3 separate regions of the Homo sapiens genome follow, and all the other regions are linked to region 3. Evidence: fine-mapped expression QTL. A gene starts in region 3. Each other region holds a variant in brackets. All regions are shown on one strand. Distances are between the middles of the regions.

Region 1 (9,922 bases), 110 kb before region 3:
GAAGAAGTCTTCGGTAATCTCCACTCGTGTCACCTGCAATCATTGTGCCCAGAGTCTTCTGATACATCTGAGCGAACATCTGTTTTATTTGTACAAGGTCAATCTGCATAAGAAATAATATTTCTGTCAGAAAAACATCTGTGACAACTGACATTTCTTAAAATTCTTTTTAAATAATAAGATCTTAATAATAATCAAAACTTGGGGGGGAAAACACCAAGTGACTGACATTTTATGGCTGGCACTCATACCAATGCTAGCACTACCCAATGAAGGTCTGATTCACAGCTCTGTAAAATACTTGGTCAGGGTAGTACTAGTTTCATCTATTATTCCAAAGATATTAGTCATTTAAAAACATTTGATAGGATGGCTATTATCAAAACCAAAAAAATAGTAAGTATTGGCAAGGATGCCATGAAATGGGAACACTTGTACACAGGTTGATGGAAAAGTAAAAGGGTGCAGCTGCTGTGGAAACTAATATGGTTAATTCCTCAAAGCAAAACAAAAACACTTCCAAAGAATTACAATATGACCTAGAAATTCCACTTCTGGGTATATTCAAAATAAGTGAAAGTAGACTTGAACAGATATTTGTACATCCATGTTCATAGCAGCATTATTCAGGCAGAAACAAACCAAGTGTCACAGATGAATTAAAAAAAAAACCAAAAGGTGGGATACACGTACAATAGACTATTTAATTACTCAGTCTCAAAAGGAAGGAAATTCTGACATGCTATAACATGAATAAACCTTGAGGACGCTATGCTAAGTAAAAGACAACACTCACAAAAAGACAAATATTGTATGATTCCACCAATATGACGTACCTAGAGTAGTCAAACACAGGCACAGAAAGTCACATGGTTTGTTGCCAGCAGTTGGGAGAAAGGAGAATGGGGAGTTACTGTTTAAGGAGTATGGATTTTCAGTTTTGCAAGTTGAAAAAACATCTGAAGGTGAATGGTAATGATGGTTGCATAACAATGTGAATGTACTTACTGCTACTTAAAAATGGTAAATTTTTATGTTATGTATATTTTATCACAACTTAAAACATCCTGCTTTGAAAATTTAAGTTAAAGAACAAAGTTTTTTTCAAAATACCATATTCTGGTTGTTTTCTTTAAAAATAATCTACCTTCTTTAGTATAATTTAGGGTTTTTGGCCGGGTGTGGTGGCTCATGCCTATAATCCCAGCACTTTGGGAGGCCGAGGCAGACGGATCATCAGGTCAGGAGTTCGAGACCAGCCTGACCAACATGGTGAAACCCAGTCTCTACTAAAAACACAAAAAAATTAGCCAGGCATGGTGGCACGCACCTGTAATCCCAGCTACTCAGGAGGCTGAGGCAGGAGAATCACTTGAACCCGGGAGGCAGAGGTTGCAGTAAGCCGAGATTATGCCACTGTATTTCAGCCTGGGTGACAGAGCGAGACTCCATCTCAAAAAAAAAAAAAAAAAAAAAAAAAAAAACACGCAATAATAATAATAATTTAGGGTATTTTTTTGACACAGGGTCTCTGTCACCAAGGCTGGAGTGTAGTGGTGCGATCACGGCTCACTGCAGCCTTGACCTTCCAGGCTCAGGTGATCCTTCCACCTCAACATTCTGGGTAGCTGGGACTACCATGCCGGGGGGTGGGTGTGGGTGTGTGTGTGTGTGTGTGTGTGTGTGTATTTTTTGTATAAATAGGTTTCACCGTGTGTGTGTGTGTGTGTGTGTGTGTATTTTTTGTATAAATAGGTTTCACCATGTTGCCCAGGCTACCACGCCCCGGCGTGTGTGTGTGTGTGTGTGTGTGTGTGCGCGCGCGTGTGTTTTTTGTAGAAATAGGTTTCACCATGTTGCCCAGGCTGGTCTCAAACTCCTGGGCTCAAGCAATCCTCCCGCCTTGGCCTCCCAAACTGCTGAGATTACAGGAGTAAGCCACGACACCCCGCCATGTTTTCTTTCAATTAAAAGTTCAGGCCAGGCGTGGTGGCTCACGCCTGTGATCCCAGCACTTTGGGAGGCCGAGGCAGGTGGATCACTTGAGGTCAGGAGTTCGAGACCAGCCTGGCCAACATGGTGAAACCCCATCTCTACCAAAAAAATACAAAAACTTAGCTGGGCATGGTGGCGCACACCTGTAGTCCCAGCTACTCGAGAGGCTGAGGTGACAGAATTGCTTGAACCCAGGAAGTGGAGGTTGCAGTGAGCTGAGATCGTGCCACTGCACTCCAGTCTGGGTGACAGAGTGAGACCATGTCTCAAAAAAAAAAAAAAAAAAAAAAAATTCAAATGTCATTTCTTCTGAGAAAAAAAATTTTTTGTAAGTGGAGTAAATATATAAAGTACAATTTTTAAAAATGAGGCTATACTTGAGACAATTATGAATATTTTAAAAATTGTTTTATTATTAATAAAGGATGCTAAATTTAAATAATGTTGATATCCACTAGGATTAATCTACATAGGCCTTTCATCTAATTTTTATATAAGCAAAATGAAAATCGAAAGACAAATGTCTAACTTCCCATAAATTTGTATTCTCCATTGACGTTCTCAAGTTGTAAAATCTGTTAGTATTATCTTCATTAGGGTAGAGTGGCCTATTTCACTAATGCAAGCTTCTCCCACAGCATGAGGAAAGTGAATTTTCTGTTCTTTATACCACCTCTTTTAGGTGGCAAAGAGAGCTCTTTCTTATCATTTTTGAGGGACTGACAACCAACTGGGGAACTTTTAAGAAATCAACATTGAACATCAAGTAAGACCCGACAAAAAGAGAGAGGCCTGCCTCACCTCACTTCGAGTGACCACAATCCGGACCAGGGTGGAGTCATCTGTGCCAGCACCTTTCATAGCATAGTAGAGCCTCTCAGCAAAGAAGGCAGGGCGGTTCAGGGCACACTGCACTGCAAGTTAGAGATGGTTGAGACATGGAATCATGATCTCACAAGAAGTGTACCCCTCCAGCTTCATTTATCACTTATAGCCTGCCTTTGATTATTTTCTCTGTAATCATCACAGAAACATGGGGTGAGTTAAGAGTGTTCAGATGCTCTCCTTGATTTTTTTTGAGACAGGTTCTCACTCTGTCATCCAGCCTAGAGTGCAGTGGTGCAATCATGGCTGACTGTAGCCTCCCAGACTCAGGTGATCCTCCCACCTCAGCCTTCTGAGTAGCTGGGACTACAAGTGTGAGCTACTGCCCCTGGCCCAACATTCCATTGTTAATACCAAAGTGTTACTAATACTCCCCTTAGTCCTAATATCCATGAGAATGAAACTTTCACTTTGTTAGACATCTGTGTATTAGACCACCAGAAACTGGTTAACTTCAAAAAGGAAATGAGTCTCACTGGGCTGAGTACCTGAAATATCTGTTTTGAGGACTCAAACTGCTTCGTGGTGACACTGTGAGTTCCTCAGGACTTTCCCTTTCTCTTTAAAGGAAGTGCTACAACTATCAGGTATTCTGGCACAGTTATCAAGACAGGCCTACAGATGAAGGCCAAATAATCCCCAAACAGCCCTGTTTGATCACAGAACTACCATTCATAGGAAATTGTATGTAAAAACACAGGACTGTTTCTGGGGGCTTATCCAATAAAGAAAACAAACAACAAAAAACAAACCCCAAAGGATTAGATCAGCTACTGCCTAAGCAGATTCCACGTGGACTATATTATCAACATTTAATGGGAACAACTATTCAAAGCTCCCACTCATTTAAAAAGAAAATAAAGCAAAGCACAAAAATATCTTACAGATGGTCTTCAAACCACTTTCTACATATCCGGAAAACTCACGGCTCACACTGCTTAACAAGTCTCGATTAGCCATCTGCAAACAAAATTAAAGGGTTAAATATTTTTGTATCTTACAGCAGAAGCCAAATCTTCAAAAGAAAAGCTCATACCCTAGAATAAGCCTCCATGGTAGCTCTCAGCTGAGGAAAGCTTCTTGTGGCAAGGATCATGTTAAAGCAAGATTCATCGGTCCCTAGTCTCCCCTCACCAGCTTGATAGAGACGCTGAGCATCTTCCTGAGCCATTTGGTGGTTTATACTCTGGTTCTCATCACGATTTCCCTGCAAAAGAGAAAGGCAGGAATTGGAAGAAATAAATAATAGTTCTACTAAATTTTTTTTTTCCAATCTAGTTCACTTTTGGATTTAAAGAGACTATTTCTTTTTTTTTTGAGATAGGGTCTTGCTCTGTCACTCAGGCTGGAGTGCAGTATCAACCTCCTAGGCTCAAGTGATCCTTCCACCTCAGCCTCCCAGATAGCTGGGACTACAGGCACAAACGACCATGCCTGGTTAATTTTTTTATTTTTTGTAGAGACAGCATGTCTCACTATGTTGCCCAGGTGCTGGTCTCTAACTCCTGGGCTTAAGTGATCCTCCTGCCTTAGCCTCCTAAAGTGCTGGGATTATAGATGTAAGCCACTGGGCCTGGCCTAAAGAGATAATTTATTAAAGATTAATCCATAATGTCTGTCATGCATATGCTTCATTTCTATGCATGGAAATATAACTAGTAATTTATTATACTGTCAACTGGATTTTATAATATAAGATCACGGTTTAATGAGGTTATGTTAAAAATGAGGGCTTTTGGGAGCTAAATTAAACCCAAAATGTTTAAACAAAAATATCTCTACTAGGAGATATTAACTACCACTCAAATGAAGAAACAGCTCTCTTAGCTGGAATTTAAGATCAATATGCACTGTACTGAGTTCTACTTTTTATTCATTCATGCGACTAAGAGACATTAAGCACTTTCTTTGTGTCAGGCACTGTGTTAAGCGGTAGGGACACAGGAGAGACAGGGTCTCTGCCCTCAAGAAATTTAACTCTAGGGCAGGAG[G/A]GAGGGAGGATATAATATGGAGGCTTCATAAACTTTCTTTTCTTCATCTGAGTATAATATTTTTTTTTAAGAGACACGATTTCACTATGTTGCCCAGGCTGGGGTGCAATGGCTATTTGCAGACATGATCATAGCCTCAAACTCCTGGGTTCAAGTGATCCTCCTACCTCAGCCTCCAGAGTAGCTGGGACTATAAGCTCACACCACCACACTCAGCCATCGAATTATAATCTTAATATGTAAGTATTTACCATAAATACACGCATAAAAATGACACATAAGCTTTACAGAAGCAGCTACAAATAACTCATGTTCTGTTAGACTGTGCCTATTTGTATACCACACTCTTCCCTGGAATAGGAAGAAAGGAAGGAGGAAGGAAGAGTTTAAGCTTAATGAGCAGTTGGTTTCTCTCAAAAACAGAAAGACAAACCCAAACAAGAAAAGGCTGCCTTTTAGAGTCTCAGGGACCATCTTTGGAATAAGATGGAAAAATCCTCCTTGAAGCTGAAGAACTGTCTTCTGAGCAACTGGCACAAGGAATACGTAGAGGCACATTCTACATGGGCGACTGAATATAACACAGGAAAAGGTACTCACAAAAAATTTCCCAGATTATTGCCTTTGGATTCACACACACTTTCTCAGGAAGTTACTCCTCTACTCATGCCCTGGAAAAGGTAGGGCTGGGCCTTGAACTCTGCATAAAGAGAGACTCAGCACCTCATGTAAAATCTTAATAGCCATTTTTTAGCATTGTCTGTTTTCCTTCTTGTTTCTTTTAAATCCTAACCTACTGCCCTCCTGTTACTCTGATTTAGGTAAATTCAATTTCCTTCAACCCATTTACTTTGCTTTCTCATTTCCATATCCACTATCCTTTCCACAGCTACCTCCCTTTTTTTTTTTTTAGATGGAGTTTTGCTCTTGTTACCCAGGCTGGAGTGCAATGGCACAATCTCAGCTCACTGCAACCTCTGCCTCCCGGGTTCAAGCGATTCTGCTGCCTCAGCCTCCCAGGTAGCTGGGATTACAGGTGCCACCACTCCTGGCTAATTTTTTGTATTTAGTAGAGATGGAGTTTCACCATGTTGGTCAGGCTGGTCTCAAACTCCTGACCTCAGGTGATCCACCCGCCTCAGCCTCCCAAAGTACTGGGATTACAGACATGAACCACCACACCCAGCCCCTCCCTTGGCTCTTAAGAGCCCCTCCTCTCCTTTAGATCCCTCCAGATGGTCCAATCTTGTGCACTAGCACAATAGGCAATAACTCTTGATATTGAATCAGCATGCTAGTCATTTACATAATCTCTTTCAAATACACCTTCATCATCTAAGTGTGCTTCTTTTCTTTTTTTCTTTTCTTTTTTTTAAGGACAGGATCTCACTCTATTGCCCAGGCTGGAATGCAGTGGTGCGATCACAGTTCACTGCAGCCTCAATCTCCTGGGCTCAAGTGATCCTCCCACTGAACTTCCTGAATAGCTGGCACTACAGGCACATACCACCATGTTCGGCTAATTTTTAAAAATATTTTTTATAGAGATGGTTTCTTGCTATGGTACCCAAGCTGGCTTCAAACTCCTGGCCTCAAGCAATCCTCCTGCCTTGGCCTCCAAAAGTGCTGGAATTACAGGTGTGAGGCACAATGTCTGGCCCTAAGTGTGTTTCTAATGCCATTCCAAATACCCTATTTGGAGTATTTTCTGTCAATTCTCCAGCACACCTGGGGAATCAAAATAAAGAAGGTGCTAATCACAGTTATTACTGGGAACCCTAAAACATTTTTCTGCATTTCTGGGTCTCCTCACATAGTCCTCACTTCCTGTAGCACCTCTATGGCAGTCCTGCACATCTTCACTTGATGGTGGGGCATAATGGGCAGGATAGTGATAAGCTCAAATGTACAGTTTCATCCCCATCCCAGCCACAGAGCCTCGAATTGGTTTCTGATTCCATACAACCTTAGAGGTTAAATCTCTAATTCCTTACAAAAGCCAGATTTACAGGAATAAATCTCAATAGTAACTACAAAGAAATCTGTACACTGGTTTCTGTGTTGTCCCTCTTAAAGATGGCAATATTGCAAGGTGGCTAAATATTAAAAGGAATAAAGAATGCTCACTGGCAAAAGGCTTTTAAAGTATGTTCCCTCTATCAACGCACAAGCATTCATACTATACTCACCTGGCACATGGACACAAGTAAACGTTCAAAATGTCCTGATGTATCTGACCTAATGTCCTTTTCAAGGTCTCGTCCAAATTCTGACTGATAACATCTGACAATTTCTCGGATTTCCTGATTTGTTCTTGTGCACAAAATCTCAATCAATACACGTTCCTGAGTTCCTGCTCCCTACATGAAATGAAGGGAAGATTATACAAAGAAAAATGAAATTTCTGCAAGTAATTAAATCTTCGTCAAATATTTCTTTGTTCTGTAGAACTAAAAACTATATATTCAGATGGATGATGTGAAATAAAGAATTGCTTTAATTACCACTGTAAATTCAGAACTGTCATAATTTGTACGGTTTTACATATGAAATAGGACAAAATATTCATAATAAATGACATATAGTAGTACCTGCATTGCTTTCCGTAAGCTCCAGGCATCGTAATACGTAGGAGGCATGAAGAGGGCCAGGATCAGTTCTTCCATATTTCCACTTAACTCTGATTTGAGATCTTTGATTAAATCCTATTTAATCACAAATACAAGCTAAGTATATGTGTTCTCCAAATTTTGTCACTTAAATCTTTTAAGGAAAATACAAAAAAAGAAATGGAATTGCTTTATAAAAACCTAAATTTGAAAGCTGAATGTTAATATACTAAGAAGTAAATAAAGGCCAGGCGCGGTGGCTCATGCCTGTAATCCCAGCACTTTGGGAGGTCAAGGCAGGAGGATCATGAGGTCAGGAGATCAAGACCATCCTGGTTAACACGGTGAAACCCTGTCTCTACTAAAAACACAAAAAATTAACCGGGAGTGGTGGCAGGCACCTGTAGTCCCAGGTCCTCGGGAGGCTGACACAAGAGAACAGCGTGAACCTGGGAGGCAGAGCTTGCAGTGAGCTGAGATCGCACCACTGCACTCCAGCCTGGGCGACAGAGCAAGACTCCGTCTCAAAAAAAAAAATAAATAAATAGAAATAAAAAAGAAGTAAATAAATTTAAAGTCTGTTACACTTACACATTTATTACACTCAAGCAGATCTATTTTATTCATTCTATCAATAAACATTTAATAAAATCTTATTCCACTCTACCAGGTACAAAAACAAGGGATATATGAAACAAAGAATTATTCAAACTGACAAAATGATAAACAGATATTTACTTAGTAAAAGGAACTGTTCTTGGTTCTATGAGGAAGTAGAAACCATTATCATCTTGTTCTTATTTGTTTTTTGTTGTTATTTTTTTTGAGACAGAGTCTCGCTCTGTGGCCCAGGCTGGAATGCAGTGGTGTGATCTCGGCTAACTGCAACCTCTGCCTCCTGGGTTCAAGCGCTTCTCCTTCCTCAGCCCCCTGAGTAGCTGGGACTACAGGCACATCCCACCACGCCAGGCTAATTTTTGTATTTTTAGTAGAGATGGGGTTTCACATGTTGGCCAGGCTGGTCTTGAATGCCTGACCCCAAGTGATACACCCGCCTTGGCCTCCCGAAGTGCTGGCATTACACACATGAACCACTGTGCCCAGCCGATATTGTTCTTATTTGGAAAGATACACATCTAAAAAAAAAATAATGTAAGGTAACCTGTACTCTAGCACTGGGTAAGTAGCATAGAAATAAGTAATAGAGAAAGTTGAAACAGAAAAAGTTCAAAGTCAGCTGGAGAGCTCAGAGAAAAATGTAAAAATTAGCATGCAAAGACGAAGGAGAAAGGTATTTCAGGTAAGAAGGAACACCACCAAGGAACAGAGAAGGGGTTCCCAGCCTTGACTCTTCATTACATTCATTGTGGAGCTTTAAAAAAAAAAAGAAAAACATTGATGTCCAGGACTAAGACTCAGAGATTCTGTGTATTTTTAAGTTTTAAAGGAAATTACGATGTTCAGTTAAGGTTGAGAATTACTCGTATAGAGCCAAGAATGAGCAAAGCTTGTTCAATGGAACAATAAGACAACCGGTTTTGCTACAGAGGAAGGTTTTCATAATAGATGAGTTAAAACAAAGTTGTAACTAAATCTTGGATTATTACACTGAATGCCAAGCTAAAGAATATGGACTTGATTCTGTTTGCTGGGAGGAACCACTGGAAACTTTTCATGCAAGAAAATGGCACTGATGTAGCAACAATATTCAGAATGGATGATGGTGACAAAGAAGCTATAGATGAAAACATTTAGGCTACTGGAATATTTAGTTAAGAGGTAATAAAGTCTTGGACTTGAATGGTAACAATGGAAATGAGAAGGAACAAAGTAGACAAAAGAAACATTTTAAAGGGCCATTTTATAGATTAGATCAATAAAAACTAGTAAATAACCAACTGCTAGGACAAAGCATACAGAATACTCCCTATGATAAAAGAAAAACATGGACTCAAAGATGACTATAGCAGGCTAGAAAAACAGTGTTTTACTAATTAGGAAGTTAAGAAAAGAGGTGGCTAGTGGTACGGAAATTAGATTGTTAGTTTTAATTCTAAAGCAATATATAAAAAAACTTGAGACAGCATTGTGCAGACTAGATAAAAAATTCATAACATGGAAAATATCTTTGTGAGAATAGTGAGTCTGATGTTGAAGCTTAAGGAGATCTAGGGTTTGTGTTGCATAATCAGTCACTGGGCTGGGCAGACAGGGAAAGGCAAAATAGAATAAGCAAGGTGGGACCAATCAATGGACCACTACCCCATTCTGAGAAATATAAACTAGATGCAGAGAACATTAGGATATTTTTAGGATTCCTATCTAAATGGCAAAGCAGGTCAGGCGTGGTGGCTCATGCCTGTAATCCCAGCACTTTGGGAGGCCAAGGCAGGCAGATCACATGAGGCCAAGAGTTTGAGACCACACTTGCTAACATGGCAA
Region 2 (9,922 bases), 140 kb after region 3:
CCAGCAAATTTTTTCCTTCATCACACTGCTATGATGAAGCTGAGATAGAGTGAAAAGAGCAGGGCCTTTGATTAGGACCCCCATATCCCTGCCATCTCTCCTTAGCCTCCTTCTGAAACATTTGAATTAGTCTCCATCCTAACTAAAGACACAGTGCCTCACACTAGAATGCATCTGGTTCCTTCCTCACCACCCCTACCTGTTGAAGGACTTATATTTGGGAAGTTCAGCTTTGGCCCCATAGGCCAGCAGGTCAATGCCAAGTTCCATTTTTTGCTGGGGGTCAACCCCCATGGCTCGCTCCCATGGGGAAATATAGGTCTTGAACACAGTGATATGTTTTCCTTCTCCGCCTGCCTGGTCTCCTGGTAGCCATGGGAGAGAAAATTCAGTCAAATAATAGCATTTAGTAGCCAATGAAAGGTAATCCCACGCCCCTACACTAGGGAAATTGCAAGAGCCAGGGACTAAAGATATAATATCCTGGTAATTGTATAAGGTTTGTGGCATAATGATAGTCTGTGGGCAGATCTGTGACTGAATCCGAAAAGCCAGGAAAGTAACTGAAAAACAAGGCTTCTGGGTAGAATAGACACATCTCTATATACTCCTGGACCCAGGTAATTCACCAAGATATTTATGATATTTAAACTGATATTATTATATTTAATATTAAGATATTTAAACTGACCTCCTCTGCTCCCCACACTCAGCGTAGACATCATTCCTGGGACAACTCTGCTCTAGGGACCAAACACATTACTCTTGGGTGAGTGTACTTGCCTGATCCTGTCTCACCAACCCCTGCTGTGCCAGCAGCTCCTCCTCTGCCAGCCTGGCCCGCGGGACCACCTGTACCCCCAGCTCCAGACCCAGAGCCCAGATGGTGCTGCTGATCAGAGCCATACTGTCCGGCAGAGCCACTGCCCCCTGCCTGGCTGCCGCCTCTGCCGTTGCTCTTGCTGTATGAGAATCCCTGACCAGCTGTGCCCAGCTGTCCCCCCACTGTTGGAAGGAACTTCTGGAAGTGATCCTGAAAAGAAGACAAAGTGAGGGGAAGGTTAGCAATGGGTATGGAAAATATACAAAAACAGAGGTATGTTTAGCAAAGGCAGAAATAGTGGCTAACCAGAAGACCCTGAATTTTCTGATATTTCCCCCTCCAGTTGATGGGTAGTACATGGGCTGACTAAGAGAATTAAACTCTTCTTTTTGTTTGTTTGATTTTTTGTGGTTTTTTTTAGACAGAGTTTCGCCCTTGTTGCCCAGGCTGGAGTGTGATGGCACGATCTCGGCTCACCGCAACCTCAGCCTTCCAGGTTCAAGCAATTCCCAGCCTCAGCCTCCCGAGTAGCTGGGATTACAGGCATGCACCATCACACCCGGCTAATTTGATATATTTTTAGTAGAGGTGGGGTTTCTGCACGTTGGTCCGGCTGGTCTCAAACTCCGACCTCAGATGATCCACCCACCTCGGCCTCCCAAAGTGCCGGGATTACAGGCGTTAGCCACCGCACCCAGCCCGAATTAAACTCTTCTTAAGAGGTAGGACTCCCTTGGCTCGTTTCCTCCAGTTATACCTAGGGTAAGGGCAGCGTGTTCTCCACACTCCCCTTTCTCATCCTTAACAAGTCAAAAAAGACCAACACGCCTGCCCAGCTTTAAAAAAAAAAAATGAAAAAAAATTCTTTTGCTTTTTGAGACAGAATCTGGCTCTGTCACCCAGGTTGGAGTGCAGTGACACAATCTCGGCTCACTGCAACCTCCACCTCCCTGGCTCAGGCAATCCTCCCACCTCAGCCTCTCAAGTAGCTGGGACTACTGGCATGCTACCACACCCAGCTAAATTTTGTATTTTTTTTTTTCCTAGAGACAGGGTTTGCCATGTGCCCAGGCTGGTCTCAAACTCCTGGGCTCAAGTGATCCATCTGCCTCAGCCTCCCAAAGTGCTGAGATAACAGGCATGAGCTGTGTCCAGCCCCAACTAAAATTTGGGAGGATGGGGTTGCCATGGAGCACCCAGTCTTAATTACAAGGACTAGAGAAATTCTGCCCCCTCCCTTCCTCAGCTTGTCCAACAGTCAGAACTCTCTTCTCTCTCCTTCTTTCTCTTCCTCTCTCCTCTTGGTGCCTGTTGGACCTCACTGGTGACAGTGACACTGTAGCAGGTGGGGGGAAGTGTGGCCAAAAGGGCAACATTAGATGCAAACCCAAAGCCTAAAAATAACCCCACCAACTTCTTCAGGAGGCTCTCCTGGCCATCCCACCATGTACACCCCAATGCTCCACCCAGTGTAACCAGACCCAGGCAGAGAAGAGTGCTTTTGGCCTCCTAAAGTTAGATATGAGCAGCTCAGCACTTTTACTCTGCTCCTATATGAGGACCAATGACAGACACTTCTGCCCCCGGCCCCATGCAGGCATCTATTTCCACTCTCCCCCAGCCACTCAGAGAGGGTGGAGGAGGAAGAAAGGAAATGGAGAAGGCCCTTCTTCCTCAGCTATACCATCCTGTGCCTGGCCCCTCTCCAGTCTCCTCTTTCTTTGGAGAAGGAGCCTGACTAGAATATATCTTGAAGGACCGTTTCAGTCTCCACACCTGGGGCTTCTTAGGGAATAGACTGACCCTTTAAATGGAAGAATGGCTCAAATGGGAGGTGGCTGTAAAAACTCAATTAACTCTTTCTAGGGTTGCCAGATTTAGCAAATCAAATATAGGATACCACTTAAATTTGAATTTCAGATGCACAACAAATTTTTATTTTTTTTTTTTAGATGGGTTCTCTGTCACCCAGGCTGGAGTGCAGTGGTGTGAACATGGCTCATGTTCATGCATCCTCTACCTTCCAGGCTCAAGCCATCCTCCCACCTCACCCTCCAGAGTAGCTGGGATTACAGGTGTGCGCCACCAGACCCAGCTAACTTTTTAATTTTTTGTAGAAACAGAGTCTTGCCATGTTGCCCAGGCTGGTCTCCAACTCCTGGACTCAAGCAGTCCTCTTGCCTTGGCATCCCAAAGTGCTGGGATTACAGGTGTGAGCTACCACACTTGACCCAAATACTTTTTTAGTATAGATATGCCTCCAAATATTGCTTGGGACTTACTTATACTAAAAAAATTATTCATTTGCATCTGAAATTCAAATTTAAGTGGACATCCTGTATTTTTATTTTAATGTCCCAAATATTGCATGGGACATATTTAAAAAAGAATTCATTGTGCATCTGAAACTCAAATTTAATTGTATATTCTGTATTTTAAAATTTCAATTTTATTCTTTGCCTTATCTTCTTCCTTTTTTCTTTTTTCTTTCTTTTTTTTTTTTTTTTGAGACAGAGTTTCACTCTTGTTGCCCAGGCTGGAGTGCAGTGGCACAATCTGGGCTCACTGCAACTCCACCTCCTGGGTTCAAGTGATTCTCCTGCCTCAGCCTCCTGAGTACCTGGGATCACAGGAACCCACGACCACGCCCAGCTAATTTTTTGTATTTTTAGTAGAGATGGGGGTTTCACCATGTTGGCCAGGCTGGTCTCAAACTCCTGACCTCAGGTGACCCACCTGCCTCGGCCTCCCAAAGTGCTGGGATTACAGGTGTGAGCCACCATGCCTGGCTGCCTTATCTTCTTTCTAAAATTTTTTTAAATTTTTATCTTTATGTCCCAAATATTGCATGGAGCATACTTCACTAAAAAATTATTCATTGTGTATCTCAACTTCAAAATACAAGACTGGACTGCCCCACTGGGCATCCTGTGTTTTATCTGGCAATCTATCTTTAACACTTACCTTTACTGGGAAGGAATTTTCTCCCTAAGGGTGTGGTATTCTCCAACCCTTCAGTGGCTCTATGATGAAAACTGGGTTTCAGAGGTGGGCTGTAACTCACCCTGGAGCTGTTGCGGGCTCAATATATCTGGGGGTTTAACAAATTTATAAATTTTCAGGGAGGGGATGTTGACTGCATTTTGGAGGTTCAGGGCCTACTAACAAGCTGTCAGAACAGGCACCAGGCTTTGAGATAGTGATAAAGTTCCAGACTCACCATTGAGCTGTCAGAGAAAACATCAGGGTGGTTCTCATAAATAAACTTCTCCACCCTCATCTGCCGCAGTTTGAACATCTTGGAGCCCCGGTTGGTAAGCAGCGACAGTTCCTCCAACATCACATCCCTTGGGACACTGATCTTTTTGCCCAGGTTCAAGCCTGAGCTCTCCTGTCCACCTTTCAGGGAGGCAAAGAAGAAGAATCAAGGGAAAGAGGAAAGTAGGGTTTTCTGGGCTCAGAATGCAGACCTCATCCACAACTAAGTGTGTATGTGTGTCCTGGCAGAGGTCATTTAGGGGAACAAATGCTGTCTAGTTTGTGAGGGATTTTGATTTCCTGGGACTTGGAGAGAATGCATGGGAACTGGGGTGCACTGTGGAGATAATGGGAATACTAGAGTGGAGAGGCCAATGGGGTAAAAGAGGTACGGGCATGGGGTACAGAGCAAAAGGAGTAAAGGAACATCATAGATGGAGGCCATTGGAGAAACCATGGCATCAGGAAAAACCCAGAGGCCAATCTTGTGTGGAGTCCAAATACAGATGCCATATATATATATATATATATATTTGTTTTTATTTTTTATTCTTTTTTTTCATTTTTTTGAGACAGAGTCCTGCTCTATCATCCAGGCTG[GA/G]GTGGAATGGCGCGATCTCAGCTCACTGCAGCCTCCGCCTCCCAGGTTCAAGCAATTCTCCTGCCTCAGCCTCCCAGGTCGCTGGGATTGCAGGCCTGCACCACCATCCCTGGCTGATTTTTATATTTTTTGGTAGGGATGGGGTTTCACCATGTTGGCCAGGCTGGTCGCAAACTCCTGAGCTCAACTGACCTACCAGCCACGGCCTCCCAAAATGCTGGGATGACAGGCGTGAGCCGTGGCGCCCAGCCTACATTTTATTTATTTATTTATTTATTTATTTATTTATTTATTTATTTATTGAGTCAGAGACTTGCTCTGTCTCCCAGGCTGAAGTGCAATGGCGCGATTGCAGCTCACTGCAACCTCCATCTCCTGGGTTCAAGTGATTCTCCTCCCTCAGTCTCCCAAGTAGCCGGGATTACAGGCACCCGGCACCATGCCCAGTTAATTTTTCTATTTTTGTAGAGACAGGGTTTCACCATGTTGGCCGGGCTGGTCTTGAACTTCTGACCTCAGATGATTGGCCCACCTCAGCCTCCCAAAGTGCTGGGATTACAGGCATGAGCCACCACGCCTGGACTTTTTTTTTTTTTTTTTTTTTAATGGAAATGAGGTCTCATTATGTTGTCCAGGCTGGTCTTGAACTCCTGGGCTCAAGTGGTCCTCTCACCTCAGCCTCCCAAAGTGCTGCGATTACAGGTATGAGACACAGCCCCAGCCCTATTTGTATTATTTATTTTGAGACAAAATAAATATATCTTAGGATGAACTCTGTCACCCAGGCTGGAGGGTAGCGTCGCAATCATGGCTCACGGCAGCCTCCACCTCCCGGGTTCAAGCGATCGTCCCACCTCAGCCTCTGGAGTAGCTGGGACTCTAGGCACATGCCACTACACCTGGCTAATTTTTGTACTTTTTGTAGAGACGAGGTTTTACCATGTGCCTAGGCCAGTCTCAAACCCCTGAGTTCAAGCGATCCACCAGCCTTGGCCTCCCAAAGTTCTGGGATTACAGGCGTGAGCCACTGCACCTGGCCCAGACTTCTGTCTTAACTACTTTCCCTTTTCTTTCCCTCAGTGAGCTCTGGCTCCAAAGAGTCTCTAGGTATTGAAGAGCTCTTCACATGCATGCACCCCTGCCCACCCCCAGGAAACATGCCTGTGCAGTTTTCCATTTTAAGTACTTACACAAGCTCCCTAGCTCTGGGGAAAGAAGTAAGGGAAATTAACCACTTATTGAGACCTGAGTCTGTGCCAGTCTCCATTATATTTTCTTCCTCAAATATACCTCACTGACTCATGGGTCCTGTGGTCCTGGACCTGTGCAGGTAACATGGCAGGGTATTGTCTCAGATTATGAAGTGAAAAGGGTAGAAGGTGTTGAATCTTTTCTCTCTTTCTCCTTACCCTTCTTAATCTTCCCTCTCCCACTCCCCATCACCCGCCTTCCCACCACTTAATTTCTCTTGTTTGTTCACCCTAAGATATATATTTCTGGGACTCTTGGTTTAGGGATGCTCTTAAGAAGTCCCACACTAGGGAGATGCAAACATGTCCTACCTCCAGTGAGTTCCATGATCAGCTTGCTGGATTTCCTCTTCTTATTAGGGGCCGGGGTTCCTGAGAGCGGCATTGTGGAGGTGGATTCAGCCTGGACAGGGTGGGAAGGAGGAGTTGGTGGATGGACAGGGACTGGGAAGAGTGAGTGTCTGTAGGAGAGCAGCACTTCTTAACCTGGGTTTAAGGGCTTGAGGGGACAAAAAAATTTTTTTTTCTTTTTTAGAGACAGGATCTCACTCTGTCGCCCAGGCTGGAGTGCAATGGCACAATCATGCCTCACTGCAGCCTCAACCTCCCTGGGCTCAGGTGATCCTCCAACTTCAGCCTCCCAAGTAGCTGGGACTATAGGTGCGCACCACCGTGCCTGGCTAATTTTTGTATTTTTTGTAGAAATGTGGTTTTGCCATGTTGCCCAGGCTGGTCTCAAACTCCTGGGCTCAAGCAGTCCTCCTGCCTCCCAAAGTGCTGAGATTACAGGGGTGAGCCACTTCACCTGACCCAGATTTTCAAAGAAGCATGTATTTCCCCAAAAGGTGAAAACTTGCGCTTTAGGGCTTCTCTTTTCTTGGGATACAGGACAGGAAGTATAGATGCACACCAGCCCCTGTTGTCTACCAACCTGTTGTGAGCTGTTTTTCATAGAGTCAGTGCAGGAATTAGGAACATAGCTAGGTGTGGGGAGTGTTTAAAAAACAATAACACAAGCAGGGCAATGCACCCAGGTTTCATTGGCTTGGCATGATTTGAAGTTTTTATTTGCACTGGGATATCAGACTGGGGCTGTGATTCCAGGCTCTGGTCTCTCCTCAGTCTTCCCCCAGTCCCCAGGAGGACAGAGAAATATTCTGCCAGGGTTGAGGAGATTCAGCCAAAAACACTCTCCATAGGAAGGAGAGGTTGTTGCTCCTTCATCAGGCCAGCTGGAACATGGCCTGGGAAGTCATGGCCCTGCTCCTGCAATCACTCCCGCCACAGACCCCAGAGTGGAGGCAGGTGTGGAACTGGGAAGGGTAGGGAGCATTCAAATCCCGACACGTCAATTCAGCAATATCATAGCAGTGGGGAATTGAGGTGGGGCAGAAACATAGTAATAGGATCTGGCAATGGAAAGGGACAAACTGGGATAAGATGGACTCCAATCCCTTCTTAAGAGAAGTTGGCACTCAGTGAAATGCTGTCCTCTTCTAAGTCCTGTCTCAAAAAATACATCTGCAACTCTACTGACTTAGTGGGGTCTCCCTTCCCATTCTTCCAGTGCCTCCCCCGACATCTCCATTCCCCCCAACCTCCTGGGCCCCTCTCCTTCCAACTCTCCTTCCCCTCTCCTTCCAACTGGACAGCTGGGAGCTGAGCATAGATGAGGAGAGGGGAGACTCCCCCAGGATCAAGAATCACAATTGTAGACACAGACACAGAAGTCAACACAGTGGGCTCCAGCCTTTCTAACGATAGAGCTGGAGACTTACCGGCTGCTCGGGCAGTGGTCAGCTCTCCCTGGGGTCCAGCAGCTTTGGAGGACTGAGCTGCTGTGACCGGAGAACACGAGCTGGGCAGGCGTGGGGGCAGCACTGGCAGTGGGGGAGGGAAGTTGGTTATTAATAGAGATGATGAGCGCAAGCAGCTCAAATGGCACAGGGGGTACTGAGACCCTGGAACCAAGATCCCTCCCTCCTTGCCCGGAGGCTCAGGAAGGAGGGAAAAGGCCTTTGGGATTCTCCCACTGAACTGTCTGAGCCAGGGATCAGTCTGCCCAGGGACTCCCCTTCACATTGCACCTAGAGCCTGAGATCCAAAGAAGCACTTAGGGAGAAACTGAAGACTGAGAGGGAGACAGGAAGTAGACAGCAAGTATTGGATAGGAATTCAGTCAGAGAGAGAGAGTCTGGGGAACATGCCCTGAGGGCCACACAGAGCCAATCCAGGGCAGAGTGGAGAGACCTGTGGGTGTATTTGGAGCAGGGAGGGCTTAAAGTGCTATATTTGGGGACAAAAAGGGAAGTCTTCACAGTGGAACTGCTCTTTTAAAGTTCCTGGATAGGTTGGTCTTTTCTCGGTAAGGGCTAGATCTTGGCAGGTTAAGGGACCAAATTAACTAAACCCAGTACCTCCTACAAAGGAATGATGTGGGGAAGACTTGACAATTATTCTGTCTGCCTCACTCCCTATTCTTTCCTCTTGAGCTCTGGCAGTTTTAATAAAAGACAAACACTTGGATCTGCATTTTTTTTTTTTTTTTTTTGAGATGGAGTTTCGCTCTTTTTGCCCAGGCTGGAGTGCAGTGGTGCGATCTCGGCTCACTGCAACCTCCACCTCCTGGGTTCAAGCAATTCTCCTGCCTCAGCCTACTGAGTAGCTGGGATTACAGGTGTCCACCACCATGCCCGGCTAATTGTTGTATTTTTAGTAGAGACGGGGTTTCACCACGTTGGCCAGGCTGGTCTCAAACTCCTGACCTCAGGTGATCCACCCACATTGGCCTCGCAAAATGTTGGAATTACAGGCGTGAGCCACCGCCAGGATCTGGTCTCTAAGGAGTTATTCTCTAGCCACCACGCCCAGCCAGGATCTGCCTTTTAACCTCCATTTGCTGTTGAGATGCTCAGTTCAACCTGCTGTGCGGGATAGACATCGATGTCTCCCTGAGAAGCACATATAGGCTCTCTGAGGTTTCTTTTCTTCTTCTTTTTTTTTTTTTTTTTTGAGACGGAGTCTCGCTCTGTTGCCCAGGCTGGAGTGCAGTGGCGCAATCTCGGCTCACTGCAAGCTCCACCTCCCAGGTTCACGCCATTCTCCTGCCTCAGCCTCCCGAGTAGCTGGGACTACAGGCGCCCACCAACACGCCCGGCTAAATTTTTTTTTGTATTTTTAGTAGAGATGGGGTTTCACCGTGTTAGCCAGGATAGTCTCGATCTCCTGACCTCGTGATCCATCCATCTCAGCCTCCCGAAGTGCTGGGATTACAGGCTCTCTGAGGTTTCTACTTGAGATTTCCTGCAAAGGGAGCACATACCACATAGGATCTGGACTGTGCCATTTGTACTGTTCCAGCGGAGTCTCTGGGCAGGGCCACAGGCTTGAAAGCCCCTTTGGGGAAAGCCTATCATTTCCCCAGGCCCTTCTTCAGTAGCTGCATGATCTTCCTCCACCTTCTGCTTAGATTCTGGAACCAGTTGCTGCAGCACTTCTGCTGCAGCCACCACAACCCTGTTGCTGCTACCTGAGGAAGTGGCTTTATTTATTTATTTATTTATTTGAGACAGGGTCTCACTCTGTTGCCTGTGCTGAAGTGCAGTGGCACAATTTTGGCTCACTGCAACCTCAGCCTCCCCAGGCTCAGGTAATCCTTCGACCTCAGCCTCCCAGGTAGCTAGGGCTGCTGGTACATGCCACCACGCCCAGCTAATTTTCATATGTTTTGTAGAGACAGGGTTTCACTATGTTTCCCAGGCTGGTCTCAAACACCTGGGCTCAAGCAATCCTCCTGTCTTAGCCTCCCAAAGTGCTAGGATTATAGGCGTGAGCCACTGTGCCTAGCTGGCTTTTTAAAAAATTATTTCTTTCTTTATTTTAGAGATGGGGGTCTCACTATGTTGCCCAGGCTGGACTTGAACACCTGGGCACAAGTGATCCTCCTACCTCAGCCTCTGAGTAGCTGGGACTACAGGCACGCACCAGGAA
Region 3 (9,922 bases):
GGCTCACTGCAATCTCCGCCTCGCAGGTTCAAGCGATTCTCCTGCCTCAGCCTCCCGAGTAGCTGGGATTACAGGCGTGTACCACCACACCAGGCTAATTTTTGTATTTTTAGTAGAGACGGGGTTTCACCATGTTGGTCAGGCTGGTCTCGAACTCCTGATCTCGTGATCCACCTGCCTCAGCCTCCCAAAGTGCTGGGATTACAGGCGTGAGCCACTGTGCCCAGCCAAATTTTTGTATTTTTAGTAGAGATGGGGTTTCACCATGTTGGCCAGGCTAGTCTCAAACTCCTGACCTCAAGTGATCCCCCCGCCTCGGCCTCCCAAAGTGCTGGGATTACAGGCATGAACCACTGCTGCGCCTGGCCTGAAGATTTATTTTAGTATGGTTAACAGTAATGAGAGTGGAAAGTAAAAGAAAAATAATTTCTAGTTCTTTTTACACAGATAAGTCCACAAAATAGACTTTGTAAACAAAAATTAAAATTCAAGCTGCTTTAAAATATAATGAAATAGAACTAGCAAGAAACACTGAAGTAGCTATGTCACACCAAGGCTATATGGGTTATCTGAAAATAAGTAATCTGGCTAGGCACGGTGGCTCATGCCTATAATCCCAGCATTTTGGGAGGCCAGGGTGGGTGGATCACCTGAGGTCAGGAGATCGAGACCAGCCTGACCAACATGGAGAAATGTCGTCTCTACTAAAAATACAAAATTAGCCGGGCGTGGTGGCACATGCCTGTAATCCCAGCTACTTGGGAGGTTGAGGCAGGAGAATCGTTTGAACCCGGGAGGTGGAGGTTGCAGTGAGCCGAGATTGCGCCATTGCACTCCAGTCTAGGCAAGAAGAGCGAAACTCCATCTCAAAAATAAATAAATAAATAAATAAATAAATAAACAAAAAGTAATCCTCCTAAAGGAAAGCTACTAGAAAACACTTTAGCCAAATGACTTCAGATTTATAAGCAGGGCAACTGGCAACAGAATCCAAATGAATTCTAACGTTGTCAATCAGAAATACTTTAGCTTAAAAAAAATTAAAACACATAAATTCAGCATTTTGGTTCAATCTGAAAGTCTGATAATTTGAGGTTACTATAACCCATGAAATAAAATAATGTTAAGAAAATGACTCACATTGTAGGTGCTAAAATGAACATATGCCCAATACTGACAATGCTCTCTAAGTAAAAAGGTGAATTTTTTATTAATACTAACAGTCTTGATAATCTCAAGAGACAATCCAGCTTTACAAATCTAGAACCTGGTATACAAAGCAAAACGTACATTTTTTAAGTATCTGGGGAAAAAAGGAGGTATCTGGGCAATTCAGGTCAAGTAAACTTTGTGGGGAGGAGGGAAAGCAATATATATAAATTCAGGATTTTGTGCTTCAATTACCTATACCAGCTTTGCTGATGTGGTAAGAAAGCACACATGCAGATACGGTTAGATATTTTTCCTAATTTTTTTCCACTTTCTTATTTCCTACATAGCTAAAGAATGCTTAATAGAATATAATTAAAAGGGTATATACCATCTTGCTTAATCAGGTGGGTTAGATCAACTTTCAAACAGGGGAAGAATTTGACTTGAGCCAGCAGCTGGAGTAGGCTCAGAACTGAATTTAATCAACCAAAAACCTAATGACCCATAATCAATGACATGGAATTACCACTAATAATTTTAGTGACAAGCTCATCACATTTACTCATGAATCACCTACAGTATTCCAAGCTCCCAAACTTCACAAAAAGTGAATTTCAGGTATCTGATCTTAAACACAGAAAGACCTATACACCCTTAAAAACCTACATGACCATAAAATGTAGGCCTTATGACTACAAGCATGGAGTATAAAATTTTGACACTAAGAAGTTCCAGGGAGGCAGGCCGGGCGCGGTGGCTCACGCCTGTAATCCCAACACTTTGGGAGGCCACGGTGGGAGGATCATGAGGTCAGGAGTTTGAGACCAGCCTGGCCAACATGGTGAAACCCCGTCTCTGCTAAAAAATACAAAAAATTAACCGGGCATGGTGGCGCGCACCTATAATCCCAGCTACTCGGGAGGCTGAGGCAGGAGAATCGCTTGAACCCAGGAGGCAGAGGTTGCAGTGAGTAGAGATCGCGCCACTGCACTCCACTTGGGCAACAAGAGTGAAACTCCGTCTCAAAAAAAAAAAAAAAATTCCAGGGAGAAAAAGACTACTTGCATTCAATGCCAACAGACAGTCTCCATAATATCACTACTATGAAAATGTATCGATACAAAACTACCACCACATTGTGGACTTAAAAGAAATTTGGATTTTAACAAGTTAAACTTAAGCTGAACTCACATCATTTATCATCAGGCAACCAGTATTCTCTAATATCAGGTATCACATTATAGTATAATTACTGAATAAAAGACAAGGAAGAATCCTGAAGATGAAATTTAAAAGTGAATTTCTGGATCTGTAAGAAAGGTGAATTTCCCAGTAAATGCAGGAGACTCCATGAGCAGTGCAAATTAGTCTGTTACACACCATTTTAAAACATATAATCCATACAGGAATTCCAACTGGTTAACAAATTCCATAAAGAAATGAAAGTTGTCTCTATGAAGAGGGCACAATGAAGCACCAGAAATATGATAACCATAAGCTTTATTTAACTATAATTTTCTATATTAACAAGCTCCTTTCCTATTTATCTAAATCAAATGGCTTTTATTCCACACCAATAACCTGCAAATATGACTGCCTTGGACTCACAACTCACCCCTAAGGAATCTGCCTTATGTTTGGAATCTTATTTTCACTGCATTAAAGCAGTACAGAAAAAACATTACCATATATATGACAAGGAATAAGAAGATTCACAAACGTAAGGATAGCATAAACTCATTGTTCAGGAATGTGATTGGTTACCCCATCTAACAGTCTGGTGAAAAGTGCCCAGGGAAATGAACACACAACACAGAAATACAGTCAGAAAATGAAGAGGTAGCCAATGTCCCGTTCCCACCCCCACAAAACTCCAGGATTTCTTGATAGAATGAATGTCTGCATTACTATTTTTTTTTTAAGATTTCTCTGTATTAAGGATTCCATAAACTCGTTATTCAGCTCATTCCAATGCCTGGCCCAACTGGATATACTACTAACTTAAGCCTAGGTGCAAATCAGTGTTTTGTTTTTGTTTTTGTTTTTGTTTTTGGAGACAGGGTCTGGCTCTGTCGTCCAGGTTGGAGCACACTGGCGCAAATCTCGGCTCACTGCAACTTCTGCCTCTCGGGCTCCAGTGATTCTCGTGCCTCAGCCTCCCGATCCGCTGGGACTACAGGGGCGCGCCACCATGCCCGGCTAATTTTTATTTTTTGTATTTTTGGTAGAGAAAAGGTTTCGCCATGTTGCCCAGGCTGGTCTCCAACTCCTGAGTTCAAGCGATCCGCCTGCCTCAGCATCCGAAAGTGCTGGGATTACAGATGTGAGCCACCACGCCAGGCCAAATTAGTATTATTCTTTTAAGAACCGAAGAAGGCTCAGGTTGAAAATTTTTAATTAAAAAAAAAAAAGAAAAAAGGTTTCCTTGTTTTTAAATATTTTAATGGAAACATATGAGTCAGATTTCAAAAAGTAGGCTAACGGTGTTTAAATACTGTGCCAGTGTATTTGAGAAGCTGAATGAAAACAAAAGTACCTATATTTTAAAAATAAATACAATACAAATAAGGAAAAGTTCATTCTACGATTTCAATTTATCAATCAAGCTACATGGTAAAGAGAATCATTTCAATTGTTTTTCACCTCCACAGCAGTGTTTGAGGTTGGTAGGCTCTCCCAGGAAGCTTGGAATCTTAAGCAACTCTCAATTAGCCCTCAATTTCTCTATTTTAAATTAATCTGCTGACCTGTTGTGGGTAAACATCCATAAATTCTGCCCTGGCTGAGAAACATTTAACTTTTTCGTCTAGGATGAATGTGTGGGTGTGTGTTTGTAAGGGAGGGGTAACTCCTTTTGACCAAAGTGTTGATGGTTTTCTAAGTAAATACTTGCTATCCACAAGAATTTTTTTTTTCGTTTATGCTGCTTTTTCTCCCTTTCTGCACTATAAAGGCTGGCCTTCCAATTCCTGCCCCGACCCTTCACCGTGATCCAATCCCACAAGGTTCCCCTAATTTCTGCTCCGGGTGGCACCTGACGGCCAAAAGTGAACCCCTGCGGTTGTCGCCAGCTAGACGCGGATAGGGCGGACGACTGTCACCGGGGAGCAGGCGTGGGCCAAAGCCGAGGTGATTTCTGACTGCTCACTGGCGGGCCTCGCGTGGCTGAAGGTCTCCGAGCCCCTCGGTTCGCCCCGGCAAGCCAGAAGTGCAGCTGTCGCGGGGCAGGAAGCTAATCGCGGCCCCTGCGCCGCTTTGACAGGCCGAGTGAAGAGAAAACGGGCTCACTGCAGCTAACAGCCTCACCCCTTGGGCTAGGAAGCCACGGAAGCAAAACCTCCGCCCCGGCCTGAAAGCAACCGGGAGACCGCGGAACCACTGCCACCGACTCAGCCCTGCCCAGCAGGGGCCCGCCCAGGGGCCACTCCCCAAGGGAGGCAGCCAGTCACTCGCCCGCCCTTCCGGGCCCACTCCCGAGGGGACGGTCTCCCGCCCGCCCTCACACACAGCTAGCTCTTCAGGCCAGGCCCCCAGGGTTTCGTCCACCTCTCACCTTTGACGACGCGGTCAGCCCCGGGAGGGGGCGGCGGGGGCGGGGGTGGGGGCGGTGCAGCCCGGGCCGGCTCCGGGGCGGCCATGCTGGGCCCGGGGCTCGGCTAGGCTCTGGGCCGGGCGGGGTTGGGGGCGGGGGCGGCGGCTACCAGAGCCAAGCGGCGGCGCCGCCGGGGAACATGGCGGACCCTCTTTCCCTACAGAGGGGCTAAGACCGGCATGCACTGCGCGTGCGGGGGTGGGGGCGGGGTAGGCTCTAGGGACTTGGGCAAAATTACTGAAGCTAGGAGAGAAACAGGACGAGGCCAAGGGATCAGGTTAAAATTCTTTGCATGCAGAATGAAGAATGAGGAGGTGCTGCGATCGAACGACTGCGAGGAAACACACCCGCTCTCATGGCATTCCCAGTAAACTGAGAAGACGTGATTAAACCTCAGGATCTCCTACTAATAGAGAAATGTATAACGATTTAGCTACCAGATCTGAATACTGAAGGGTTGGTAGGGGACCAGAGAATAGAGGAAGCATTGTAGGTTCTAGAGTGGAGAAGGGACCATCCAAAATGGAGTTTGAAAGAGAATTCTGGCCTTTGTGTTTAGAGTCTGGAATTGTCAAGAGTCTGAAAGCACAGAATAAGACTGCAGCTAGAGCAATTTAGGCGCCATAGTTTGTCAAAACAGGTAAGGGGAATAAAGGGGATGACACCAAGAGATGTGCAAAGAATCTGAAGAATTCACCTGAAAAGGATACAACCTCCTCCTGGAAGGCAGAGGAGTAAATAGGGAATTGGAAATTAATTCCTTATTTCTGCACATGCACAGAATCTGGGCCCAGGTGACTTATGGAACCTTTATAGAGACCACGGTGACTGACACTCATGGGAAAGGGGGTAGAGGGGCAAGAACTGACTGTTCATCAAAAATTATTAGATGAGTGTGTCCACGACACCAGGAGATATGTTGAATCATGGACAGGGACCAGCATATCCACTAAGCTCTATATATCTTGATGGTGCAGGATCCAAGTGGGATGGAACAACCAATTCCTGCCCATCCTCCTGCTCAATAATACATGTGCTCAGAATCTGTTCATAATGCATGGTGGTAAGTAAGTAGTAGTCCGAAGGTCCAAGGAGTACCTTTCTACCTCTTCTTTGTGTCAATTTCTATCCTGAGACCCCAGGAAAAGAGGAAGGGAAAGACCCAACAATGGATTTTTTCCAAAAAGGGAACCCACAAGCTATTTTTTAGAGGGAAGAGTCTCGGGAGTGAGGCACAGGTGAAAATGGATCTTTCTGGCATGGAAGGGCCATAACACCACAGGGGAAGGGAAAGGGAGAGGCCCCCACGGAAGGAGAGGAAGGAAGGGACAGGAGGCACGTCACAAACTTATAAGATAGAGGGAAGGCACCTGGAGTACATTGATCAGGAGTGAGTCTGTAAGAAGAGCTTGAATCCCCAGAAAATCTTCCTAAGGAGGGGAGGAAGGAAGTGTATAATGTACTGAGTACTGAATGCTCTGTCAGGAAAGGGATGGGAAACATCCTAGCAGCAATACTAGAAAGGAAAGGCACCCTATTTTAGGACCCATTGATTCCCACCTTGATTGTATATCCTTCAACTCGTCTCTGGCTCCTCACTTCCACTCAGTCAAAAGCCACTTCATATATTTATCCAGACTTCCAGCCCCAATACAAAGAAAGCAAGAGCATACAAAGGGAAGAATGACAAGGAATTAAATAGAACTGTCTTATAGATTTATTAATGAAAAATACTTTACAAAAACAGTATGTTTGGCCTAAAATAGTTCAGCTGACTCTGAGGGTTTACATTGACGACTGAGCAAGTGGCAATAATGGCTGTGTTATTGAGGACAGAAGGCTGTGTTAGTGTGCCTGACTCCATCTGTTCAAAAGGGTGAATGTTATGTTGGCAGCTCCGCATTCTAGGCCTAAGGTTTGGAGGGCACAGGGAATGCTGACAGGCCATAATACCTGGGCAGGGGGGCTGCCCTGATGATGTCATCAGAACCATGACCACAGGGCTACATGTCCCCCCAAGGATGGGAGACAGGGAAGACAAAGGGTCAGGTAATAGGGATAGGTGGATAAAACAAAGAGTAGAAGTTGGGAGTATAGTAGGGAACAGAGGATGAGGGCTCAGGTGGAGGTGGGGACATAAAGCATCCAGGAATAAAATGTGACCTTAAAATCCTAAGGAATGGCTAGTATCCAGAGTAATACCATGGATTCATCTTTAAAGTGGCTCAGATAAAACCCTTAAACAGCAGCTGCTTCCTTTTGCTAGGGGGAATGGAAGTTGGAATTTCAAATATCCCCTCCCAAAGAATCACATCTTTTTAGAGGTTCCTGACACCCTTAGGAGAACCCACCAATTCTATGTTGAGATGAGAATAGCACAACCATGGCAGTGATGCAGGGTACCAACGCTGCCACAGTAGTTTATTTTGTTGTTGTTTTGTTTTGTTTTTTGAGATGGAGTCTCACTCTATTGCCAAGCTGGAGTGCAGTGGTGCGATCTCGGCTCACTGCAACCTCTGCCTCCCGGGTTCAAGCAATTCTCCTGCCTCAGCCTTCCGAGTAGTTGGGACTACAGGCACGCACCGTCACGCCTGGCTAATTTTTTGTATTTTGGTAGAGACGGGGTTTCACCATGTTGGCCAGGATGGTCTCAATCTCCTGACCTCGTGATCCACCCGCCTCAGCCTCCCAAAGTGCTGGGATTACAGGTGTGAGCCACCGCGCCCGGCCCACAGTACAGTTTTACAAAGAAAGGTGTAGCTCCAGGAAAGGAAAGGAATAACCTTTACCATTGACTGTGCTGCAGGACTCTAGCCCTGATCTGCTCTCTTCTGGGAGCATCTGATAGAACAAACAGAAACCCCTCTCCCACTGTTCTCCTGTGTCCAGAGTGGGAGGCATAACTGCTTTGCCTCCAGTCATCATCTGGGGGCATATCTACTCTTCGAGGACCAGGGGTTCGGGACCCTGGAACAGGATCTGAATTCCAAGCTGACCTCAGGGGTACATGAAGACTGCTAGATGGTGGGTACACAGGATGAACAATGGGAGGGTGGGAGGGTGAATGGAAAAGATCACTCCAGGACTGAGTGTGAGGAACCTGAAGGCCCTTGCTTCTTTCTGGTAGTGTGGCAGTGTAGGTTAGTTGAGGATTGCACCCTGGAGTAGTCAGGAATCTGGTCCCAATATGCTGGTTGGTCTCTGACCAGGGTGCCCAGGAGTTGTCTGTTCTGGAGCGATGGGGGAGGCTCTGGTAGTTCAAAGTCCTTCCTGTGTACTTGGCCCCTTGGGAAGTTTCACCCCTGTCACACATAGCCAGAAACTGCTGGACACTCCTTGAAGTTCCTGGGGAAAGAAAAGAAACCCAAAGACTGAGCATCTTCAGAAAACCATTCTCCTTCCCAGAGAGCCATGCCTAGCTGTGTAGCCCAATTCCCTACTCCTCCAAGAGCATACATACAAGGGAAAGAATGAATCAAGCTGTGCTTTTGATTCCATTTCTTAAAATTCTTAATATACATCAAAATCAAATCTCATACCTCCAACCTGGGCAAATGAAACAGTCTCATGGATGTTGCCATACCTCTACCTCCCTCCACTATAATCTCTCATCCACTATACACACACCTACAAAAGAAGGGCTCCCTAATATATAGCAATATATGGCAAACGTATACTCCCTTTGTGATGACTATACTCCTAGAGCCACCATACCAAAACCTCACGCAGCTTTTCTTTTTAAAAAAAATAGAGACGGGATCTCACTGTGTTGCCCAGGCTGGTCTCGAACTGCTGGACTCAAGTCATCCTCCCATCTTGGCCTCCCAAAGTGCTGGAATTACAGGTGTGAGACGCTGTGCCTTGCTTTTTTTTTGTTTCTCCAACTTTTCTTAAAATGTTACCTTCACTTCAGTTAAGCTGCCTTTGTTTGATCTCTGAGATCTAATGTGGAATGCCTTTTCTTATACATTTATTCAACTTTGGCACTCTTGGTATCTTGGGCTGATAATTCTTTGTTGGGGTTGGGGAGAGACTGCCCTGTGCATTGTGTGATTTATTAATGAAAAATACTTTGCAAAAACAGTATGTTTGGCCTAAAATAGTTCAGCTGACTCTGAGGGTTTACAACAACAACTGAGCAAGTGACAATAATGGCTGTGCTGTTGAGGACATCCCTGGCCTCTACCCACTAGATACCGGTGGTACATCCCCTTTATCCATTGAGAACCACTGCCTCAAGCTTGTACATCCAGTGCATGAGGGGAAAAAAGAGAACATCTCACTCGGAAGGTCAAAGAAAGCCAAAATGATATTGCCCACCTTCCCCACAATTGTCTGGGTCTGTACACATGGTGTGGGTACTCCATGTAAAGGGTCTTTCCAATTCTCCCACTCATTCCTTATCTTCCTAGACCATCCCTCAGCTGAGACTCAGAGGATAGAAGGGGAGAAAACTAGCTCAGAGGATAGAAGGAGAGATGACCATTTCTGTTCTGGGGATGTCCCAAAGACTGGGTATTAACTCCCCTTTGTCAGTTAAAAGCTTATTCTGTCATGACTGAAGCAGGTCATTTTCGTAAGTAGACAGACTCTAGGGGTGCTGGTCTAAACCCTTGGTCTAAGAATCATGGTGCCCAACAAATGATTTAATATTTATCTAGATAAATGCACGACTTTGAAGCAGTAATTCATATCTTCACACCACTCCACCTTGGGATACCCCCCTCCCCATAGGTATACTGATTTGACCCTTGGAGGCCCCTGAAAAGGTACCAAATTCTGGCATATAATATTAGATTTGGGGGAGTTACCTGGGAGTCTATTGGGCTCCCCTGCCATGGTGGGCATCAGGACATCTGGGGACAGGAACTGTGGTTGGGGAAGGTAGAGTTGGGGACCGAGGAGAAACACAGAAGGGTCATGGATGACAGGGAGGGAAGAGGAGCTGGAACAACGGTGCCCGGTTTCCAAAGGCTTCCTCACGTTTGATGAATCCTTATAATGAGACAAGACAAAAAAACATAGAGATGAGGATTAACACAAAGCAGGATGTAGTTGGGTAAACACAGTGAGGCAAGCAAAGGGAAATGGAGGGAACCAGAGCACAAACATGCCTACATGCCTTGTTCTGGAACAGGACCCAATTTACTCAGTTGCTCTCCCTGCTAGCCCTCTAAG

Direction of the effects. Positions count from the first base shown, and alleles are read on the strand shown. Sizes are in standard deviations (SD) of each study's normalised expression. Not every link is listed here.
For the expression in unexposed skin of the gene that starts at base 4,653 in region 3, allele G in region 1 goes with a lower level than allele A (moderate effect, 0.57 SD a copy in GTEx).

The links.
Region 1: its variant is fine-mapped to the expression of PPP3CB-AS1 in unexposed skin (GTEx, PIP 0.96).
Region 2: its variant is fine-mapped to the expression of PPP3CB-AS1 in whole blood (INTERVAL, PIP 0.92).

Annotation. Positions count from the first base shown.
Region 1 is chr10:73,376,115-73,386,036 of GRCh38, forward strand. It overlaps ANXA7 (annexin A7), which reads right to left. Exons shown (of 13, transcript NM_001156.5): 8 at 7,463-7,576; 9 at 7,061-7,231; 10 at 3,917-4,087; 11 at 3,765-3,840; 12 at 2,797-2,909; 13 at 1-103. Among named protein-coding and RNA genes, the nearest start is that of CFAP70, 22 kb to the left of the region's middle. The variant G/A (reference allele first, on the strand shown) is at 4,872.
Region 2 is chr10:73,633,701-73,643,622 of GRCh38, forward strand. MYOZ1 (myozenin 1) reads right to left here and starts at 7,774. Exons shown (of 6, transcript NM_021245.4): 1 at 7,711-7,774; 2 at 6,245-6,335; 3 at 4,044-4,222; 4 at 784-1,033; 5 at 200-365. The coding sequence starts at 6,317. The variant GA/G (reference allele first, on the strand shown) is at 4,682.
Region 3 is chr10:73,491,100-73,501,021 of GRCh38, forward strand. PPP3CB-AS1 (PPP3CB antisense RNA 1) reads left to right here and starts at 4,653. Exons shown (of 5, transcript NR_132104.1): 1 at 4,653-4,718; 2 at 5,043-5,384; 3 at 8,496-8,588. It overlaps PPP3CB (protein phosphatase 3 catalytic subunit beta), which reads right to left and starts at 4,925. Exons shown (of 14, transcript NM_021132.4): 1 at 4,706-4,925. The coding sequence starts at 4,790. USP54 (ubiquitin specific peptidase 54) reads right to left here. Exons shown (of 24, transcript NM_001391956.1): 23 at 9,556-9,739; 24 at 6,439-8,089. The coding sequence ends at 7,530. RefSeq lists enhancers at 3,992-4,451, 4,942-5,131 and a silencer at 4,512-4,861.